Homo sapiens: one gene and its partners. The protein of the gene in region 2 interacts with the protein of the main gene of each other region in a biochemical or structural test. Each region holds a gene or a part of one and is shown on either strand. Other genes may lie near its edges. The genes, in order: NEURL4, CCP110 and CETN1.

Region 1 (3,651 bases), on a different chromosome or scaffold from region 2:
AAGCCCCGTACCCGAACCCAAGTGTCCACTATCACCCAGGCACCATCATGATGAGCGGCTGTGGAATCCTGACCAATGGCAAGGGCACCCGCCGGGAGTACTGCGAATTCAGTCTGGATGAGTTGCAGGTGAGGGTGGGGCACAGATCCCTGGGCCGCTTTCAGCAGAGCCACAGGTACTCTGTGTCCCTGCCAGGGCACCAAGCAGGGTCTCCTATGTGACCTAGAGGCAGTCCCTGTATCTTCCACCTAAAGGTTCCTTCCTAGAAGCCTGAGTTGCCCAAGAGTTCAGCACTCAGATTTTGGAGTCAGATGGTTGAATTCCTCTTACTGTTTTCCCATTTGTAGTAGCGAACCGGGGCAAGAAGCTTATCCTCTTTGATTGCTCCCCCACCTCCTGCAATCTCTAAAATGAGCCTACGAGTAGTACTTATTCCATAGGCTGAGACTTGTAGAAGCTAATGTCTGTGAGGTGGTTTAACTCAGTGCCTGACTCACGTGGAGCATTGACGAAATGTGGAAATTGTCATGTCTGGAAAACAAGGACCCAGGACCTGTCCTCCAGGGTGGTCTGAGACTCTCACGAATACCTTCTGGAGTTGTTCCTGTGTGGAGTGGGGTGCTGAGCAGGCCTCAGGACTCCTCTAAACTGTTTGTCTTCTTTGATTAGGAGGGTGACCACATTGGCCTCACAAGGAAGTCCAACTCTGCCCTACACTTCTTCATTAATGGTATCGATCAGGGTAAGGGCCGCCCAGAGAGAGCCTCTGGGCCGGGGCTTTCGGTGGGGCTGGGACTGGGGGCTGTACCTCATCCTCCTGCTTCTCTTTGGTGCTTGGCCTCCCTGTGTTTGACTTTCTCCCCTCATTCTCCCTGTCCACTCCCACACCCCCGTACCTTCCTGCCACAGGAGTGGCAACCCCCTTGACGCCCCCAGTGGTGTATGGTGTGGTGGACTTGTACGGGATGGCAGTGAAGGTGACCATCGTCCACAATAACAACCACAGTGACCGTCTCCGCCGAAACAACGCCATCCTGCGGGCGCTGTCCCCCGAGGGTGCTCTCCGCCGTGCTGCCCCTGCCGCCCAGGCAGAACCTGAGCGCCTGCTCTTCCACCCCAACTGTGGGCAGAAGGCAGCCATCACCCACGAGGGACGCACTGCCCTGAGGCCCCAGTATGGCCCATGGGGTGGGGAGAAGCCTGAAGAAGGGATTCTAATGGGGGGGGGGGGGCGGGGCAAGGAAGTGGAAGGCAGAGGGAGCCTGGCGGGGGCAGCTTCCTGGAGGTTGAGCTTTAGTTCTTTGGCTTGGGGCAGTGAGTGTTGGCAGGCATTGCTGGGCTAAGCCTTGGCACATTGAGAGCGTGTGTTGGGGATCTGACTCTCCACTTGCTGTGCCCTCAGTGCCACCGATGACTTCAATCACGGCGTGGTGCTGAGCAGCAGAGCCCTGCGGGATGGAGAGGTGTTCCAGGTGCGCATCGACAAGATGGTGGACAAATGGGCTGGCTCCATTGAAATTGGTGTCACCACCCACAACCCTGCCTACCTCCAGTTGCCCTCCACCATGACCAACTTGCGCTCTGGTGAGCTCCCAGGAAGGGCAGGGACAGGATAGGGTTTTGGGGGGAAGCTATCCCCAAAGCCCTGGCACTTGTTCTGCAGCTCCTTTTTCACTTGTCACTCTTGTGACCACTCATTCAGTGGCTAGAGAGTGTCCCGTGGGCAGGGCTGTGGCTGTCTTGGAAGCTGCAGAGTTTTCTTGTCCTGCTCAGGGAAGAAATCTAGTCATCAAAGAAAAGGCAAGGTGGACTGTGGGCTCGGGAGTCCTGTGGGCGCTGCTGTGGCAAGGAGAGGAGCCCTGCATTTCCCCTCATGTCCCCTCCTGCTCCTTGTCCTCCCAGGGACCTGGATGATGACTGGGAATGGGGTGATGCACAATGGGACGACCATCCTGGATGAATACGGGCACAATCTGGACCGCCTCAAGGTGGGAAAGTGGGTGCGCCGCCTGGCGGCCGCAGCGGGCATCACAAACACCGCGGGGCTGATGCAGGACCAGCCCCGGCAGGAACTCTGCCTGACTCCTCACTCCAGCACCCCCTTCTTCCAAGGCAGGGGACACGGTGGGCGTGGTACGGCGGGAGGACGGGACTCTCCACTTCTTTGTCAATGGGATGACTCAGGGCCCTGCTGCCTGGAACGTGCCCCCGGGCGTCTATGCTGTCGTCGATCTCTATGGCCAGGCGGCCCAGGCCACCATTGTGGACGACGTGGGTGAGGGCCGGGCTGGGCTGGGGCTGGGGGTTAGGGTGGCCTTGGGAGGTCTGAGAGACACCTAGAGACCTGATGGGTGATGTCCACTTTTACAGAGGTGGCTCCAGTTCCTGAACCACTCCCTGAGGGGAACAACCAGGTGTCTCCAAGCTCTCCGTCCTCAGGGGCCGGGGGCTCTGACCTGCGCTTCCATCAGCTGCACGGCAGTAACGCAGTCATCACTAACGGGGGCCGCACCGCCCTCCGCCACAACTGTCGCAGCGAGTTTAATGACGCCATCGTCATCTCCAACCGGTCAGTCTCTCAACTTTCATGTCCCCACCTTCCTCCTGCCCAGCCTCAGCCATGCAAGTAGAGCCTCTCTGATCGCCAGTCTCCTGGCAGGGCCCTGCGGGATGGAGAGCTGTTTGAAATTGTCATTCAGAAGATGGTGGACCGCTGGTCAGGCTCCATTGAGGCTGGTGAGGGCCGTCTGTGTGTGTTGGGGGCTGTTGGATGTCTGTGCCTTGGGGATCGGCCTTGACTTACCCCTGCCTCCTCCCAGGAGTGACTGCTATTCGGCCTGAAGACCTGGAATTCCCCAACACCATGACAGACATTGACTATGACACATGGATGCTGAGGTTGGGCTTCCTGCTTTGGGGACCAGCTTGGGGCTGAGTGGAGCTGGCTGGGATCAGGGAAGCAAGGTTTGGGCCTATGGTGGCTGTGGGTAGTGACAGACCTAGGGGATCTACCTGTCCCCTCCCCTTGAATTCTGGGAAGTCCTGCCCAGGCCCACAGGGGCTCAGTCCTCCTTCATCTTAGGCAGTTCTTGCTTTTTCCTAAGGGGATCCCAGGGACAGAGGAGATAGGATTGGGCCTTACACCCAGATCAAGACACCAGCCCAAGACATTGGAGGGTTCTGACAGACAGGGAGTGGGCAGGGGCCAATGTGAAGTTGAAGTTGGCAGGCTGACTCACCCCTTCTGCCATCCCCCCAGTGGTACAGCCATCATGCAAGACGGTAACACGATGCGCAACAATTATGGGTGTGACCTGGATGCGCTGGGCACAGGTGCACGCATTGGCATGATGCGAACTGCCAAGGGCGACCTGCACTACTTCATCAACGGCCAGGACCAAGGCGCTGCCTGCTCGGGCCTGCCTCCGGGTAAAGGTGACTATGTGGCTTTCAGCCTGCCACCCTCAGCCCAGACCACCTGGCTGTCAGGCTTCTGACCTTCCCTCTCCTCCCCAGAGGTGTATGCGGTAGTCGATCTCTATGGCCAGTGTGTCCAAGTGTCCATCACCAATGCCACCGGCCCCATGGACAACAGCCTGGCGACCAGCAACACTGCCACCGAGAAGTCCTTCCCACTGCACTCCCCAGGTG
Region 2 (3,651 bases):
TCATTACATAGGGATTTCGAGTAACTGAAATGGAAAATCACATGTCAAAGGAAAAAGTAAAGCTTAGGAACTGAGTCACACAAAAACTGCCTTCCTTTTATTCCTAAACAGATAGCTGCAAAATAGAAGGCCACCTATCTACCCAGGTAGACTCTCTTGCAAATTGCTCACAAGGAAATTCCTCGTAGGCCCCAAAATCTTTACACCAACCCAGAGTTCTGCTGAATTTCACTCTGACAAGATACGGACAAAGACCAAAGATGACTAGAAATCATCCCTTTGGAGACAAATGTATATTTGACTTCTTCCTCTACTCTGCTTACTTTATCCTATGTAAAATGCAGATTTATTGAGCTTGAGATGAATGCATAACTGACTGTTCCTCTACCCCCACCTTTCTCATGCGACTTGTGGATTCAGTGAGTGCTAATCAAAGCCTCACAAAAATGTGATCGCTTATCTCATTACCTACCCTCCTTTTTTTTTCTTTCCTCTTTCCCCTCCTGCTGTTCTCTCCCCTTTATACACTGAAGTCCTCAAAACCTCTTCTGGAAAAGCATAAGCCACAGATTCTACTGTAACTTTTGTCTCTTTTTCCTTGGCACATCCTCAACCTTGGCAAAACAAACCTCTAAATCGATTGAGACTTGCCTCAGTCATTTTCTTCAGTTTACACTACCAACAGAGAAATGAACCCTTAAGGTTCATTATACACGTGTCATCGATACGAATTAAACAGACAAACCACAAACTCCTAAGATTATGAAAAAACAAAAAGATGTTACCAGCAGAACACTGCTATATGTTGTAGAAATTATTCGTTCAATCTAATTCATTTGTTTTTCTTTTTAGTACAAAATGATCCACATGTCAGAACAAATTGTTTATACAAATCTAAAAATAACTGCACAAGGTGTAGATGTGTTGTTTAAATAGTTTTTAGACATAGGATGCATCTAAACAATTCAATGTTATCTAAACTGCATTTTGTGTATCTAAGAGTTTTCACCAAAAAAAAATTGGAGGCAGTTATTTACTTAAGCAAAGAATGAGAATAAGGTCATTTAGTCAATAGTCTAATTAGTTTGGGGTAAACAATAATACCCAATTCTGTCATTTTGTCACTGAGAATTCAATGTTTTTAGAGTCATAAGATGCAAACAATAAGCAATTATATTCAGTGTATGGTTCTATTGTGTAAATATCCTCTGATTCAAGTACTGGGCATTACTAACAAGCAAGTACATTCTCTTTGGAGTAACTGAAATGGAAAATCACAAATTATGAAGCTTCTCAAACGTAACAGTAAAGTACATTAGTAATTAGTTAAGTGCAAATATATTTCAGAAAAATTATCATCAACGCTTATCTTATGATTTCTTTATTATAACTGAAACAGCTAAAATCACACACCTGAACATTGTCAAGAATCTCCTGGACACGAGTCAGTAAAGCTTTCTTCCTGTTAACCTGCTTTCTTGCTTCTACATCAAGTGCTTTCTGCTTTTCTTGTTGCATTTCCTTTCTTTTCTCAATGTTAAGCTGCAAAACATCATAAAAATGTAATTATTTCCCACGATAAAAATATCATAAAATCGGGAAGTTGTGAATCAGAAAGATTAAAAACATGTGCAACAGGCAAAACTAATGTATAGTGAAAGAAATCAGAACAATGGTCTGGGTACTGAGTGGGATGGGGCATTAGAGATCTTTCCATGGTGAAGAAAATCCTGTGTGGGTGTGAGTTATACATGTGTATGCCATATATCAAAACTCATGGAACTTTAACACTTAAGATTTGTGCATTTTGCTATGTGTAAATTATTTTCAGTTAAAAGGTTAAAAAGAAAAAAGTTTGTTCACTAATCAAATGTTCTAAAATGACAGAAATAAAATTAAGGCCCTTTTGGCCACTGCTGAGTTTTTTATTACTTCACTTGAATATTGACTTGAATATTACTTCACATTCAGTATCCTTTTTTTTTTTTTTTTGAGATGGAGTCTTGCTCTGTCACCTAGGCTGGAGTGCAGTGGTGCGATCTCGGCTCACTGCAACCTCCGCCTCCTGGGTTCAAGCGATTCTCCTGCCTCAGCCTCCGGAGTAGATGGGCTTACAGGCGCGTGCCACCACGCCCAGCTAATTTTTGTATTTTTAGTAGAGATGGGGTTTCACCATGTTGGTCAGGCTGGTCTCGAACTCCTGACTTTGTGATCTGCCCACCTCGGCCTCCCAAAGTGCTGGGATTACAGGCGCGAGCCACCGCGCCTGGCCCATCTTCAGTATCTTATTTCACTGGATCAACTGGATTCTACAACTTTTAATTTTCTAACCAGTGCACAATTTAACTCTTTGCTGCCTCAAAAAATGTCCAAAGGTTTAATGATAAAATAAACAGATAATATATTATTTGCCTACAAAAGCAGAATACATCTTTTCTTTCACCTCACTCTACCTTCTGATAAAAATATAATGTACCTAAAAAATGGAAGGCTTCTAAGCATTGTATCTCTTTATAATGGATTTCAATCTTAATTATTAAGTCCTGGGAAATTAAATCACTGTTAACAGTCAAGACTTATCGTAGACTTACACAAATAGAAAATATATCATTAAAAAATTATTTCAAAAGTTGCAATATTCACCTATCAAATACAACATAAAAGTGTGGATTAGGTCCATAAACATCACATTTTGCTTATAAATAAATAACAGACGGAGTCATAGACCCTACACAACAAGCCTCAGACATTTTGGTCCACATTAAATCAAGCAATGTGTTATCAAATAGCTGATAAATATGTTGTTTTAAAACTTTTTCCTAATTGCATGGTACCAAAGAATGATTATACAATTTACTTGCTAATCAAAAGGAGAAAATGTGTACTTTAAAGAGCCATCTGGCAGTCACTACTGTAAGCAAGTGTTCAAACTAAACATCACTAATAGAGGGCAACTAAACATTATGTAACTTCTGATTTAATTTAGTATGAAGTGCAGGGCATCATCTCCAAAGAATTCCTTTTTTTTTTGAGATGGAGTCTCAGGTTGGAGTACAGTGGTGCGATCCCGATCCCTCCTGGGTTCAAGCGATTCTCCTGCCTCGGCCTAACGCACAGCTGGGATTACAGGCACCCACCATCATGCCTAGCTAATTTTTATATTTTTAGTAGACAAGGGGTTTCGCCATGTTGGCCAGGCTGGTCTCGAACTCCTGACCTCAAGTGATACACCCATCTCGGGCTCCCAAAGTGCTGGGATTACATTTTTTTTTTTTGAGAGAGGGTCTCACTCTGTTGCCCAGGCTGTTGTGCAGTGGCTCGATCTCGGCTCACTACCTTTGCCTACTGGGTTCAGTGGATCTTGGCTCACTGCAACCTTCGCCTCCTGGGTTCAAGGGATCCTCCTGCCTCAGCCTCCCACATAGCTGGGATTACAGGCATCCACCACCACGCCCAGCTAATTTTTGTATTTTTAGTAGAGACGGGGTTTCGTCATGTTGGCCAGGCTGGTCTCAGCCTCCCAAAGTGCTGGGATTACAGGCATGAGCCACCCCGCCCAGCCCTATCTTCAAAGAATTCCAAAAATCTTTAACCTGTTTATCAAACTTCACTTCCAGTTCATAGGAACTACAGGGACTAGAGAAACAAGTT
Region 3 (3,751 bases), on a different chromosome or scaffold from region 2:
GGCCCTTCATACTGATGTTGGCCCAAGTTGCACCTGTTCCCATCCTGACTGCACCTTAGTCCACACTAAGACCTTGAACCTGAACTGTTAGCATCTTGCAGCCTGGGTGAGTTCCCCTACCCTGTGCCAGGCACCTCAGCAAAATCCTCACAGTGAATGCTTCCATACCCATCACTTCAGCTAGTACTGCCGCTTTGACAAATTAGTCCCTGTTAATGAGAATTAAGCCCAGGGTAGTTTGTTCCCCTGATTAGATCCACACCCTCTGAAGGGTAAAATTGCTGGCAAAGCAAGTGAAATGTTCCCAGAATTTGAGCATTTATCTTAATGGGGCTTTGTATGAGGATTTAATTTAGGTTTAGTTGTGACCAAAATATCCTGCCTCTTTGTTTTGTTGCCTGTTATTAAAACATTAGTCAAAGCCTCCATCTCAGCAGATCTATTTGTTATTTTCCCACAATTACATTTTTAAAATTTTCTTTAACTTCAGATTTGTAGCTATGCAAAATGATGATATCTTACTCCAAAGCAAAAAATAATTTATAACAGAAAACAAGCAGTATTAACACATAAACAAGCCACAGTGGAGCAGTTTACTGGGATTTGTAAAATAGAGCACTACTGAAATGCCAGACACTCTGACATCAACTATATGTCAGAGGGGCTAAAAGTCAAGTACCAAGAACCAAGATGTTCTAAGGATTAGCAGGGAGAGTGTCTCATAATCAAGCAGTAATAAGATGACTAAGGTTATAATAGTCCAATAACTAAGATATTTGTTGCTATTTCCAAGGACTATAAGTAGCTTAAAATGTTATATTAAGGTATTTGTTATAATTTCCTAAACTAAGATCCTACATTTGTAAATATTTACTCAAAATCGTTTGTTAGCGTAACCTCTTAAGCAAATTATACTTTGCTTGGGCCAGTATTAGATTTTATTTTTATTCTGTAGCCCAGGTATACATACTAGCCCTAGATAAACCCATGGTGGACAATTTACACATGAACGAAGAATCATTTGCAGGTATAAAGCCAGTGAATAGTCAAAATTGCACAACGTACTACCACCCAAGCAAGTCTATTCTTTATAAGATTATCTGTCCTGAGCTCCGTAAGTTTGTAAGTGGCCACCCTGTTTTCCTTCAAACTGGTATTCAGCTAAGTGGACAGGCTAGGCAAATCTACTGGCAGATTCCATCTCATTATGCTGGAACAATGACTGGAATTTAAGGAATGATATATGAAGCAAGATAATTTAAGACCACCAAAGAAGTGACAAAGGGAACCACATTTTTGTGTGTCCCAGAAGCTGTCCTGCCTCCAGATCAACAGATGAACAGCAAGTTCAGCACAGGGCAAATGGAGGGCGCACTCAAACTTCAGGGCCCTTTGTTTAACCTCATGTGCTCCAGGTTGACTCTTGAGAATTAAAACCCAAAACTCACATTACAAGCATCTTTCAAATTCTATTATTGAACTAGAGATATGGAAATAGATCTAGACAAATTATGGGGGTGAGGGGGTGAAGAAGGGACAGGCAGCCGCTGTCCTCTAAGGTTTCACAAAATGGAAGCAGGCAACCCAGAGAGTCACTTTAGCTTCTGAACCGACTTCAGTAAAGGCTGGTCTTCTTCATGATCCGAAGGAACTCCTCCTCGTTCACTTCGCCGTCCCCATCCCGATCAGCTTCGTCGATCATCTCCTGCAGCTCCTCATCCGTGAGGTTCTCCCCCAGCTCGTTGGCCACACGCTTCAGGTTTTTGAACGAGATCTTCCCGGTCTCATCGTCATCAAAGAGCCTGAAGGCCTTCAGGATTTCTTCTTTGGTGTCCTTCTCGGACATCTTCTGCGTCATCACGGCCAGGAAGTCATTGAAGCTGATCTTCCCCGTGCCTTCCCTGTCCACCTCGGAGATCATTTTCTTCATCTCTTCCTTCCTGGGTTCGAAGCCCAGCGCTCTCATGGCCACCTTCAGCTCCTTCGCGTCGATGGTCCCACTTCCGTCCACGTCGAAGAGGTCAAATGCTTCCCGAACTTCTTGCTTCTGATCCTCAGTGAGCTCGGGCTTAGGTGCCACCTTTCTCTTTTGGCCGGTGGAGGCAGCGCTGGGCTTCTTGAAGCCGGAAGCCATCCTGCCGCTCTGGCCGCCGTGGTCCCAACGGCACCGCCCCGCGCTCTCATTCGGGCGCCCCCCGCCGGCGCGGCGCGGGACCACCCCTCGCTCACTGCCAACGCCCACGCCCGCTGGGGCCTGGAGCCGGCCCGGGGAACCTCTTCCTACGCCCTCCCATCTGCGGGATCTTGCTTAGGCGAGAATCCGCTGTCCCCTCGGGTCATTAACCGGTTTCCACGAGTTGACGCCTGAGCTGGCAAGAACAGCCTGTAGCCACAGTTGTCTTCTGTAATCCACTGGCGCTGGCAGTTCTTTCCAAGATATGTGCTAGCATCCATAAGACCCCAGTTTTATAGGTTTCTTTAGGGACTCTTCCTCTCTCTCTCTCTCTCTCTCCTCTCTCTCTTTTGACAGGAGTGCACTGGTGCCACTCAGCTTACTGCAGCCTCCACCTTCCAGGATCAAGTGATCCTCCCACCTCAGCCTCCATAGTAGCTGAGACTACAGGGCATGCCACCACACCCAGCTAAATTAAAAAAAAAAATTTTTTTTTTTATAGAGACAGAGTCTCACCATGTTGCCCAGGCTGGTCTGAAACTCCTGGGATCAAGGGATTTCCCGCCCCAGCCTCCCAAAGTGCTAGAATTACAGGCATGAGCTACCAAGCCGGGCCTCTCCTTTTTATACCATTTAAAAAACCCTCTTGTTCTAGCGGCAACACCCAATGAGGTGACAGGTCCTAAGGGTAAATTTAGGATAATCAAGATTGAGTGTGATCACTTGACATTCAATGTGGGGAAGGAGAAGGAAGAGAGAATATTAAAAGTCATACCATGTGTTCAACTTGACATAAATGGGAAACAGAGAAAATGGAAAAATTTATGTATAAAATGCGTAGAAGTTTGTCTCCTGACATTACACTCAACAATAATACAATGTTTCTGGCATGTTCTCAAATATGAAATGTAATATCCAAATGTATGATTTACTTTCAGTGTTTCCATTTTACATACTCAGTATAATTGCACTTGAATAATGGTCATAATTTCATTCATGAGGCTTTTGATTTGGAGGGAGGGAAGTGGAAATACTACATTCTGGTATATTCTAGTATTTTCTTTTCTCTAACCTCCTAGCAGCACATTACTCTCCTTGCTTATCATCCAATCAGAGCTGTGCTGAAACCCACGCTCTGGTCGCCTTCCTTTGGCAATGGGCACAGGAGATGATGCAGGACATGTTGGGACTCAAAATTGCCTCCTGGGAATAAAGCGGTTCTCCTACAAACCAAAGAGCAAGAGGAAAATGGAAAAGAAAAAAAAAATTACCAAATAAGCCCACCAAGGAATTGCCTGTAGAATTACTTTGCATTCTTTTAAATAGTTACAGAAAAGAAAGCTGACTTATTTTTTTAGCATTCTCCCCCTGCCCCGCCCCCCCGCAATCAAATCTCAATCTATTAATATATCAATACCTTTTGTAACCTATGAAGGTTACAAAAGATGTCACTTTGAAGAGTTTGTGTTAAAGAGTTTTATGGCTGGGTGCAGTGGGTCACACCTGTAATCCCAGTAATTTGGGAGGCCAAGGCGGGAGGATCACCTGAGGTCAGGAGTTCAAGACCAGCCTGGCCAA

The links.
Region 1: the proteins of CCP110 (region 2) and NEURL4 form a complex in vitro, tested with the Homo sapiens proteins (one study listed by IntAct).
Region 3: the proteins of CCP110 (region 2) and CETN1 form a complex in vitro, tested with the Homo sapiens proteins (one study listed by BioGRID).

What each region holds. Positions count from the first base shown.
Region 1 is NC_000017.11:7,322,732-7,326,382, reverse strand, and holds part of NEURL4 (neuralized-like protein 4), read left to right. Parts: intron 1-39; coding exon 40-128; intron 129-669; coding exon 670-742; intron 743-909; coding exon 910-1,174; intron 1,175-1,402; coding exon 1,403-1,584; intron 1,585-1,902; coding exon 1,903-1,988; intron 1,989-2,112; coding exon 2,113-2,275; intron 2,276-2,370; coding exon 2,371-2,569; intron 2,570-2,659; coding exon 2,660-2,736; intron 2,737-2,819; coding exon 2,820-2,898; intron 2,899-3,259; coding exon 3,260-3,435; intron 3,436-3,516; coding exon 3,517-3,648; intron 3,649-3,651. UniProt on the Homo sapiens protein: Promotes CCP110 ubiquitination and proteasome-dependent degradation. By counteracting accumulation of CP110, maintains normal centriolar homeostasis and preventing formation of ectopic microtubular organizing centers.
Region 2 is NC_000016.10:19,530,307-19,533,957, reverse strand, and holds part of CCP110 (centriolar coiled-coil protein of 110 kDa), read right to left. Parts: intron 1,543-3,651; coding exon 1,414-1,542; intron 1-1,413.
Region 3 is NC_000018.10:578,792-582,542, reverse strand, and holds CETN1 (centrin-1), read right to left. Parts: upstream 2,164-3,751; 5' UTR 2,135-2,163; coding exon 1,616-2,134; 3' UTR 429-1,615; downstream 1-428. UniProt on the Homo sapiens protein: Plays a fundamental role in microtubule-organizing center structure and function. Plays a role in sperm cilia formation.